Linked DNA regions of Homo sapiens: region 2 is linked to region 1. Evidence: fine-mapped expression QTL. A gene starts in region 1. The other region holds a variant in brackets. All regions are shown on one strand. Distances are between the middles of the regions. Region 1 holds the start of HOXA9 (homeobox A9). Region 2 overlaps SKAP2 (src kinase associated phosphoprotein 2).

Region 1 (5,380 bases):
GCTGGAGAAGGGGACCCTTCCAAGAGCCAGTATGTTTTAAATGGGCAAAAAGAATCCCAAATTCCAGAGCCATTGATATAAACTTGAGTCATCGTTCCAAATTGTAGTCTACAGATGGGAGCCAGTCTGACCATTTTCCCTACAGAAAACAGAAAACAAACTATCTCTCCCTACTCCCAACACACACAGTTACAGATTCGTGCCCACAAAGCTGTTTCCTTTCCCTGCCTGGACTGGAGGCCCAGGAACTCTTTCGTTGCACAGCCACCGACCTGCTGTCTGAAAGGACCACACACCCCATTCCCTTCAACTCCTCCCTGCCATTTTCTGGACCAGGGCATTGGATTTATTTCAGAGATCACAGTTTCAGAAATCTCAGTCGAGAAGGGGCCGCTTTAAATTATACTCATTTATTATTTCTTTATGCATACGCAATCTCTTTCACTTCGAAAATAAAAGCAGACAAAAAAGTCAGACTATTCTGGCTCCAAACCTTTGGGCTGAAGGAAGACAATATTTGGTTTTCTGATTTTTCTCCGCTTTCTAGGCACCAGTAACATCTGCTTAACACTCAACGCCTGCTAATTGTTCAGTAACTCTCTTATTTTGGGGCTAAGGCTGTTTAAAGGAACAGCTTTTTTACTTAAAAAATACTGAAATAATCAGTGTCTTCTCAGGCATAAAACGTGGAAAAGGCATCCAGACATGCCCAGCCCATTTGCAGACACTTAAAATTGGGAGCCAGGGTTTCCTCCAGGGTTAATTTTTTAAATGAAAATCTCAGAGGCCTGGCGGACTGCGGGGTATTTAGGACACGGTGGACTGTGGTGGGGGTGGGCATGACCTAGAGGAATTTATGGGGCAAGGAAAATATTAGGGGGAGGGAGATGAGGCGGACAGGACGGGGCCATTTCGGAGTTCATTGTGTCGGCCACTTCCCTCTTCCAGGCGCGGGTGCAGGAAGGGGCACCCAGTCGGTATCCGCGCGGCTTGGCAGCCTCGCTGGTATTTGGGAGTCCCAGCCGGAAGTGTGTCAGGGTGTTTGAGGGGGGGATTACTGGAACTGCTGGTGAGGATGAAGGCAAAAGAGAGAGAGAGAGATGGAAGCGCCCGAGGCCGCCAGCCTCGCCGCCAGGGAAGTGGGCTAATGAAAAACACACTGTTGCAGGCACAGTATCCACACGTGAATTTGATTACCCCTGTTCTAGGAGTCGCTGCTTTCTGTTAGGAATTGGGGGCAGGGGGAGTTTCCTTCCAATTAACGGAGTGGCGGCGACCTTTTAATTTACCCCCAACGGGTGAGAAATAAACTTCCCCAACGTGGCCAGGCCCAGGAATGGGACTGGAGTCGATGCCCTTTTACCCCTCCCCGTTCTAATTTCCAGCCCTGGCCTTGAGCTGTGGCTGCCTCTCTTTGGGCCTTGTACCTCTCCGCCGAGTCTCCGGGCCCCGTAGGTAACCAAGGCGAGGCCCGGAGTAGCAGCTGGAAAGGGAGGAAGGAGCCCTGAAAGGCTCACGCGGCCCCGGGACAGGCCACATCGGTGCGGGCCTCCCAGGTTCCGGAGCTGCGGGGTCTCTTAGGCGAGGCTGCCTTTTCCCAAACCGAACTTGCCTTCCATTCATGCCACTTGTAGTTTTTTCCCCAGCTGGGATTCACGGAGCGCAACCAGGCTTGCAGCGCTCATGGTTAGAGCCTCTGAGGCTGGAGCACAGGGCTGGGTCGCCAGCCGCCTGCGCCTGGGAATCCTGATTGCCAGCTGATGAGAAAGGCGGGCTGGGCGCGCGTGTGCGTGGGGTCGAGGGCCGGGGACCGAGCGCGCCGCACAACCAACCAGGCCCTCAAAACCTTCGCCCTGGTGGCGGCTGGCCGCTCCCTCCTGGCCAGCTCCTCCGTGGGGTCCTCGTAGCAAAGGCGAATTTAAGGGTTGCCCGGGCGCCCCTCGCTCCAGGCGGGTAGCTGTGGGGACCTACACCCGCGGTACTCCCTGAGCGGCCGGTCCCTGCCTGGAGTGCCCTGGTAGGGCCGGCGGCGGCTCCGTTTGGGACGGATCCTGCGTTGAATTTGACTTTTCGAGGGCGGCCGCGGGTAAACTCGCCTCTCCCGGGGACCGCAGGGATTATTTACAGGGAGCTCGCCAACCAAACACAACAGTCTAACCTTTCCAAGTCCTCGTAAATTTTTACAGCTGGGAGCCACGGCGAGGCAAACGAATCTGTTGGTCGTTTCCGACTTCCCGCCAGCCTGTGTGGCTTCTGAAACAATAACTCCTTATGAAATATCATAAATATAGATTTAAATACAGTAGAGCGACAATGCGATTTGGCTGCTTTTTTATGGCTTCAATTATTGTCTAATTTTATGTGAGGGGCTCCGCTGGCCGCACTCGCACGCGGGACCCGCGCCTTCTTGATGGCGTGATTAATTGTGATATAAAATAGTCCGCTTAAGAAGTGTGTGTATGGGGGGGGAGACGGGAGAGTACAGAGACAAGGCTAGATTTGATCTTTTAATCGTCGTTGGCCACAATTAAAACAAACCCCATCGTAGAGCGGCACGATCCCTTTACATAAAAACATATGGCTTTTGCTATAAAAATTATGACTGCAAAACATCGGACCATTAATAGCGTGCGGAGTGATTTACGCGTTATTGTTCTGCTGGACGGGCACGTGACGCGCACGGCCAATGGGGGCGCGGGCGCCGGCAACTTATTAGGTGACTGTACTTCCCCCCCGGTGCCACCAAGTTGTTACATGAAATCTGCAGTTTCATAATTTCCGTGGGTCGGGCCGGGCGGGCCAGGCGCTGGGCACGGTGATGGCCACCACTGGGGCCCTGGGCAACTACTACGTGGACTCGTTCCTGCTGGGCGCCGACGCCGCGGATGAGCTGAGCGTTGGCCGCTATGCGCCGGGGACCCTGGGCCAGCCTCCCCGGCAGGCGGCGACGCTGGCCGAGCACCCCGACTTCAGCCCGTGCAGCTTCCAGTCCAAGGCGACGGTGTTTGGCGCCTCGTGGAACCCAGTGCACGCGGCGGGCGCCAACGCTGTACCCGCTGCGGTGTACCACCACCATCACCACCACCCCTACGTGCACCCCCAGGCGCCCGTGGCGGCGGCGGCGCCGGACGGCAGGTACATGCGCTCCTGGCTGGAGCCCACGCCCGGTGCGCTCTCCTTCGCGGGCTTGCCCTCCAGCCGGCCTTATGGCATTAAACCTGAACCGCTGTCGGCCAGAAGGGGTGACTGTCCCACGCTTGACACTCACACTTTGTCCCTGACTGACTATGCTTGTGGTTCTCCTCCAGTTGATAGAGAAAAACAACCCAGCGAAGGCGCCTTCTCTGAAAACAATGCTGAGAATGAGAGCGGCGGAGACAAGCCCCCCATCGATCCCAGTAAGTGTCTCCTCCCTTCAAATCCGCCGCCGCCTCCACGCCGGCCTCCCGGATCTGCTGGCCCGCCAGGTTTCTCTCGAGCCTGCCTTCGTCCTCGCTGGAAGCCTCTCGAGTTGGGGCCAGGAGCCAGAAGTTGGTGTTTGGGACGCCTCAGATAGGGCCCCAAGTCTGGAGAGCAGTGAAGAGCGGCCCGCAGGGCTACGGGAGAGGAGGCGGCTGCTGCAGCGAGAGGGGGCGGGGCGGGCACTTCGGGACGAGCCAAGACTGGCCGCCCCTCTCCTTGGCTGCCCAGGCCCAGGACCGAGATACTTTGGGCCGTTCTTCGAAAGCAGTGCAGCCCAGAGAGCCTTTTGTACAACTAGATTGTCCGTGAGCGGCGGCAGCCAGGGCAGCCGGAGCTGGGACGCTGGGGGAGACGGCCGATTCCTTCCACTTCTTGCCTTCGGCCAGTGGCGGCGTAAATCCTGCCAAGATGAGGCTGCGGGCGACCCGGGCCACAAGGGTCCCCATGACAGATTATTCAAATAAGCCACAGACGTGATCAGCGGCCTTAGGGCGCCCTGACGGCTTGCCCAGCTCCGAAGGCCTTCCAGGAAGGTTAAATAAGGAGTGGGGGGCGTAGAGGGACAGGTTGGGAAAGAAAGACGAAGTCAGTGAACGGGACAGAGGAATCCTAATCTTGCTACAGAACACAAGGCAGCATGCTTTCCCTCTGCGTGGCAAGGAGACCTGTTTCCAAATTTCATTCTATACAGCGTTTTGAGAGTGGGAGGAAGGAGAAGGGGGACAAGAGGACAGAGTAGGAGAAAGGAAGGTCTCGGAGGGGAGGGCGAGCCAAAGTTTTACTGCGTGCAATTTTAAGTGACTGTCTGTGCGTCTGTCTGCCAGGGTTCCATTGTGTCCGAGGCCTGACTGCCTTTCCTAACCAGTTCAGCAGAGTTCTGCACTTCGGCCAGAGACCCCATGCAGGAGGCTCATTTGCCCCAGCGGGATGTGCGTCTTCTGCTCCTAAACCCAGTGTTTCTCTTCCCCGCAGATAACCCAGCAGCCAACTGGCTTCATGCGCGCTCCACTCGGAAAAAGCGGTGCCCCTATACAAAACACCAGACCCTGGAACTGGAGAAAGAGTTTCTGTTCAACATGTACCTCACCAGGGACCGCAGGTACGAGGTGGCTCGACTGCTCAACCTCACCGAGAGGCAGGTCAAGATCTGGTTCCAGAACCGCAGGATGAAAATGAAGAAAATCAACAAAGACCGAGCAAAAGACGAGTGATGCCATTTGGGCTTATTTAGAAAAAAGGGTAAGCTAGAGAGAAAAAGAAAGAACTGTCCGTCCCCCTTCCGCCTTCTCCCTTCTCTCACCCCCACCCTAGCCTCCACCATCCCCGCACAAAGCGGCTCTAAACCTCAGGCCACATCTTTTCCAAGGCAAACCCTGTTCAGGCTGGCTCGTAGGCCTGCCGCTTTGATGGAGGAGGTATTGTAAGCTTTCCATTTTCTATAAGAAAAAGGAAAAGTTGAGGGGGGGGCATTAGTGCTGATAGCTGTGTGTGTTAGCTTGTATATATATTTTTAAAAATCTACCTGTTCCTGACTTAAAACAAAAGGAAAGAAACTACCTTTTTATAATGCACAACTGTTGATGGTAGGCTGTATAGTTTTTAGTCTGTGTAGTTAATTTAATTTGCAGTTTGTGCGGCAGATTGCTCTGCCAAGATACTTGAACACTGTGTTTTATTGTGGTAATTATGTTTTGTGATTCAAACTTCTGTGTACTGGGTGATGCACCCATTGTGATTGTGGAAGATAGAATTCAATTTGAACTCAGGTTGTTTATGAGGGGAAAAAAACAGTTGCATAGAGTATAGCTCTGTAGTGGAATATGTCTTCTGTATAACTAGGCTGTTAACCTATGATTGTAAAGTAGCTGTAAGAATTTCCCAGTGAAATAAAAAAAAATTTTAAGTGTTCTCGGGGATG
Region 2 (5,380 bases), 320 kb after region 1:
CATTAAGAATGTAAAGATACTCTAACAACTAAGAGTAACTGAGAATTTCTTGATCCCTACTGGTACATATTCCATGAACTGTTGTAACATGATCAAAATATGTTTACTAGCACTTTATGAAGTTCCTTCCTACCTTATATTTGAAATCAGAGCACTCTTCTTTTGTTAAAAAAATTTTTTTTTAGAGATGGGGTCTTGGTCTGTTGCCCAGGCTGGAATGCAGTGGTGCAGTTATAGCTCACTGCAGCCTCAAACTCCTGGGCTCAAGCGGTCCTCTTACCTCAGCCTCCCACAGATGTGACTATAGGTGCAGGCCACCACACCCGGCTAATTGTTTTTATTTTTATTTAGAGATGTGGTCTTGCTATGTTGCCCAGCCTGGTGTCTAATTCCTGGCCACAAGCGATCTTCTGGCCTCAAGCATGCTGAGTAGCTGAGATTACAGGCGTGAGCACTGCCACCAGCCTAGCACTCTTCTTTTCATAAGAGAAATATTGTAAGGGATCATTGAGTGTTCTGAAAAGGACTTTGAACATCTGAAAAGAAAGAGAAATTAAGTTCCAAAGAATGAGTAGTATTTATGTGTTCCTTAGAATTTTAACTGTGGGAGTAACATCACCATATTTACTGTACCTAGTAGTAGAATCCCTAAGGATGACAATATAGCCATCTCTATGTTCTGCCCTTATCATCTTAATGAGAGATGTCTCTGATGACAGTTGCTCACAAAGTGGCAAAATTATAAGGAAATAGGAATATGTATTTTTAAAAAATTATTTGGACAGTGTTGTCTTGAGAGAGGCTATTTTCTCTACCAAAAATGTGGTAACAAATAGGGTGACACCCATCAAATGGGTGTCAGAGGACAAAGATACCCTTTTGGAGAGACAAGTAGCATTAATCTGAATCTGCCAGGAACTGTGGTTCAAAAGTAATACTATAGGCACTCTGCGGTTCCTATGGGGATTTTCCTTGTGCTTTAAGGGTAATCCCTGAGGTGGCTGTTTTTCTGTCAGGTAACTTGAATTCAACAGTCAAATACTTAATGTAGAATTAAGCATACTTTTTTCTTTGTTGTGAAATCCGGGTGACAAATGAATGCTTATGTGTAACTGGGCTAGCAAATATTTGTGTTTTTTTAAAAAAATTATTTTAAATGATTATATGGAAAAAATTGAAACCACAAGATCTTGTGGAGATTAATTAGCCTAAAATAGAAAAGTCAATCAAAAAATCGACCAACGAACCTAGGATTTGAAAATCAAGTTGGAAACTGGCCAGAACATTAAAAAGTAATAACATACCATTGAATGAAACTGAAAGTGTCTAGTTTGTAAATTACCCTTACTTGAATTTAAAAAGATTATGAAAATTTTAAAGCAGTTTTTTCTATAAAAGATTTTAAAAGATTTGTGCTCTGGAAAATGCAACAGATTATTTTTAATCCTCTCTAAAAATGTATAAAATGTATAAAAATGTATAAAATGATTTTATACAAAATATTCATACAGCTTCAAATTATTAGTTTCTCATCATAATTTTTCAAATTATTGAATAGGTAAATGGAATTACTTGTATTATGTTTTCTGTTGTGCTTCCTGGGTTTTGTTGTTGTTGTTGTTACTGTTATCTTGGTTTTGTTCGTTTGGATATACACTCTGTTTTACCCTGCTTCTACTTTTTGGATTCTTCTTTGTAGAGATCATCATAATTTTGGACTATATCCTTTTGTGTCATAAATAAGCAATTGTATAATGACCTTCAAAAATTCTTACTATATCTAAGTTACAATGGCTATAAAATAAAATAAGACCTGTTTTTACCTAGTTTTAAAAGTTTTCTTTGTTTTTCCATGACAATGACTCAATTTACTAGTAGAATTTACCTCTTCTAACAAAGTAACATTAACATTAAGTAACATTACTTTAAATGGCTAAAGTATAAAAGGCAGTTCTCTGATTTTTTTTTTTTTTAACAGGTGATGCAGAAGATGGGGAAGAATATGATGACCCTTTTGCTGGGCCTCCAGACACTATTTCATTAGCCTCAGAACGATATGATAAAGACGATGAAGCCCCCTCTGATGGTATGTGACATTTTCCCACGTAACTCTGACACTCACACAAAACAATGCTATATATATGGGTGGTAGTTTTATGAGAAAGCAGATGAACATAGAGGCTTCGGTTAACTTACCTTTACCAAAACCTTTTAAGGAACAGAAGAGCTCTCTCTAGTGGTTCTGGTGAGGTTTTCCTAAGTATGTAGTTGGTTCTTTTTCTTGGAAATTTTCTTTACTAAAATTTTTGAGAGAGTGCCTGTATCATCATATGAATATTATTAGTAACAGTTTGATAGTTAATTTAATATTATCAGATTCTTGCTTAATTTTATTATGCTACTTGAAGGCTTACTGTATTATTTATTTTATAAATAATAAAAAAGATTTTTGATCTATTTTTTTCTGAAAACTTTATACAAAATGAGTTAATAAAATATTAAGTTAATTTTCCGACATTGCCTCTTCACACTGAGACAGGTTTTTATCAAATGCTTCTTTTAATGCGCATTTTCA[T/C]TTTTATATTGTCACTTAAAAGTGGACCATATTATGCAGTAATATTGCAGTGTTTGTATTAACTGAATTAGTAATAAATTTATCTCTTAGTAATTTCTAAAAGCTATTGAATGTTGCCAAAGTTATGAAACTTGTTTTTAGTGTAGTATGTACTTTCTCTGTTATAGCCATTGAGTACATCTGCATTATAGAAACCTTATAAGGGTAATATATAGTTATAAATTAAGAATGTGTATCAATAAATTAGTCATGCATATTAATTTGTAGCACTCAAAGTTTCACATAGACATAGAAATGAATAATACCTTCTGCCACTATGTGATGATCAAACTGTGCAGTTCCATCTCTAAATACAATTGCTGAATGAAAATATGCTTCCTGCAACAGAGCACTCCACATTTTATGTTATCCAGATTATTCCCTTTGGAAACATAAATTGCTTTTATGAGGTATAAAATTATGTCTGTTGCAGAACGGGGATAAGTCAAGTACATGCATAAGTGATAAACATTCTAACCAGTGATTCAGTACAAAACAATCTTTTTTTATATCCAGAACTTTGTACAAAGTGTAGCAATAATAGTCATATCTATTTTATGTTGAATTTTATGCTTCGGCAAACATTTAATTTCTATTTTTAAAGGGAGGGTTTTTTTTTGCTGTTATATTCACTTTCTATCTTTTAAAGAGATAAGCATTTCTTTTCTCTTCACCAAAACAGAGCATTACCCTTTCCAACCTCATCTTCAAAAGCATTTCTACTAGAAAATGTTTTATAATCAAAGAAATAATATTTTCAGGCAAAACAATGAATTATTATTTAAGTGGTACTATTTTTCAGACACATTACAATTGCTTTATTTCTCTGTAAAATGTTGGTATATATGAATGTATGTGTGTATACACATACACAGACAGAATATTTATACTAAGAGAGACATACGGAGAATATATTCATAGACTATATAGACATAGTTTCTTAAAATAGCATAAACATTTTGATATACAGGGGAGTGCTATGTGTATTCTTGAAAAATTTGCAACCTAAAAAGAAATTCAACAATTAAATATCTATGAGAGCCAGAAATCTTCCAGTAGCTTGTTAGAAAAAGTAAATTATTATTAAATTATAGTGCATTTACATTATTGTTTTCTTTTTAATAGTAAATAATTTATCATATATTTTTATAACAAAATATTCAGGAAATACACTAAAAGATTGTTGTTAAAAGGTTATTTTATTGATTTTAAATATTATTTAATAACATTTATATGTAACATCAAGTTTTTTTGTTAATAGTGCCTATTCATTAGTGTTTAAGCAATTCTTGAGCAGATTAAAACTTTTACCTGTAGTATTACTCATTTTTGATATATAAATAATACTGTTTTTGATACTTTCACATTTTCTTCTAAGAATATCATTATTAAAATTAATTTTTAAACTACCACTTGGACATTTAATATTCACTCTAAAATATCATCTCAATGTATCAGTTTTTCTCTCTTCAACTTAGATTTTGTGTGTGTTCTCTTTCCTTTGATGAATAAATTTGCTTCATTATGTGACCTCAGTCCAATAATATATTAATTATAAAAAAGATAATGCATTTAACAATAAGCATAACCGAATTAGCACAGGTCACCAAAAGGCCTTTTGTCAAATCAGATTGTTGTTTTGTCCTTTTGACTTTTACCTTATGGAAGGCACTAAGAAAGTATCTAAACTTCAATGGGTTATAAACTCTAAACATGATATGTATTTTTCATAATGCTAATGTAATTTTCAAGGTACTGAAAAGGTCAAACCTGCACATCTCTATGTGCATTCTAAGTCTGTCTTTTGCTTTAATATTTATTTTTCTCTATTCCTCTGGTTCAAAAGTTCACTCAGTTCCCAAATGGCCACCTAATTTTCCAGTTATTCCCCCAAGCCATATGTGTTTTGGTTTCTTTATGGTTTATTAGGTACTGTAGGAAAGCAGCATAAGTTATATCTTCTAATGAAATTCAAGCACACTTCAGTGATGCTTCGACTTGATTGCTGGTAGCAATTAAATCATAGCCAAGGAGAATAATGCATAATCTTACAAGGTCCAGGCACCGTATAGAAATTGAATGGGGATGAAAACAACAAAAAGAAAGTTTCCAAACCCTGCCAGGTACGTTGTTTTCAGCCTGCCTTTTTTTTTTTATTGGCCAACTGCCTGATTGATAGCAAAATCATAACTTGCTGCATGCTAACAGGCAGAGTTCACTTGTAGGTTATTGTGAGCTGATAAAGGGTTAGATGCAGTTTTGATTTTCGCATTGGACCTTGGTACACCAGATTAATGGAATTTCAATGAGAGACTAGAGTAGCCACAGCTTTGTCAGAGAAACAGATGGAGATTCTATAGTCATGTCTACTCATTAATACTAGTTGCCTGAAAGGTGTGCTGCTTCTCTATACAAAAGAGTTGATATAATTGATTTTTGAGTTGTACATTGGAAAAAAGTACCTTATTGATTACTAGAATTGTAACATAGATGGTGACAGATTTTTGTATAGCTTGTAGCTTAAAAATATTGTACTTTGTAAATTTTTCTTTTCCCTCTTTGGAAATGCTTCTTATGTTTTATATTTTTTGAGAAGAACTACATTTTGAGACCAATAGCAAAAAAAGAGAGAATGACATGCCAAATACCTTTTTAGGAAAAAGAATAAGAGTCTGTATTTTATTTATAAATGATTGCATGACTGCTGTTAGAGTTTCATTTTGATATTCTATTTAGAAGAAAGTATACTTATTAGAAGTTTCATTT

The links. PIP is the estimated chance that this variant, and not a neighbour inherited with it, causes the effect.
Region 2: its variant is the best candidate, but not a certain one, in a credible set for the expression of HOXA9 in whole blood (TOPMed, PIP 0.53).

The regions. Positions count from the first base shown.
Region 1 is chr7:27,162,896-27,168,275 of GRCh38, reverse strand. It overlaps HOXA9 (homeobox A9), which reads left to right and starts at 2,739. Exons shown (of 2, transcript NM_152739.4): 1 at 2,739-3,398; 2 at 4,435-5,380. The coding sequence starts at 2,819. The coding sequence ends at 4,673. It overlaps HOXA10-HOXA9 (HOXA10-HOXA9 readthrough), which reads left to right. Exons shown (of 3, transcript NM_001433944.1): 2 at 3,309-3,398; 3 at 4,435-5,380. The coding sequence ends at 4,673. RefSeq lists enhancers at 882-1,600, 2,449-3,325, 3,326-4,203.
Region 2 is chr7:26,840,736-26,846,115 of GRCh38, reverse strand. SKAP2 (src kinase associated phosphoprotein 2) reads left to right here. Exons shown (of 13, transcript NM_003930.5): 4 at 1,979-2,086. The region is part of intron 2 of LOC124901606 (a long non-coding RNA gene); the gene reads right to left. Among named protein-coding and RNA genes, the nearest start is that of SKAP2, 21 kb to the left of the region's middle. The variant T/C (reference allele first, on the strand shown) is at 2,576.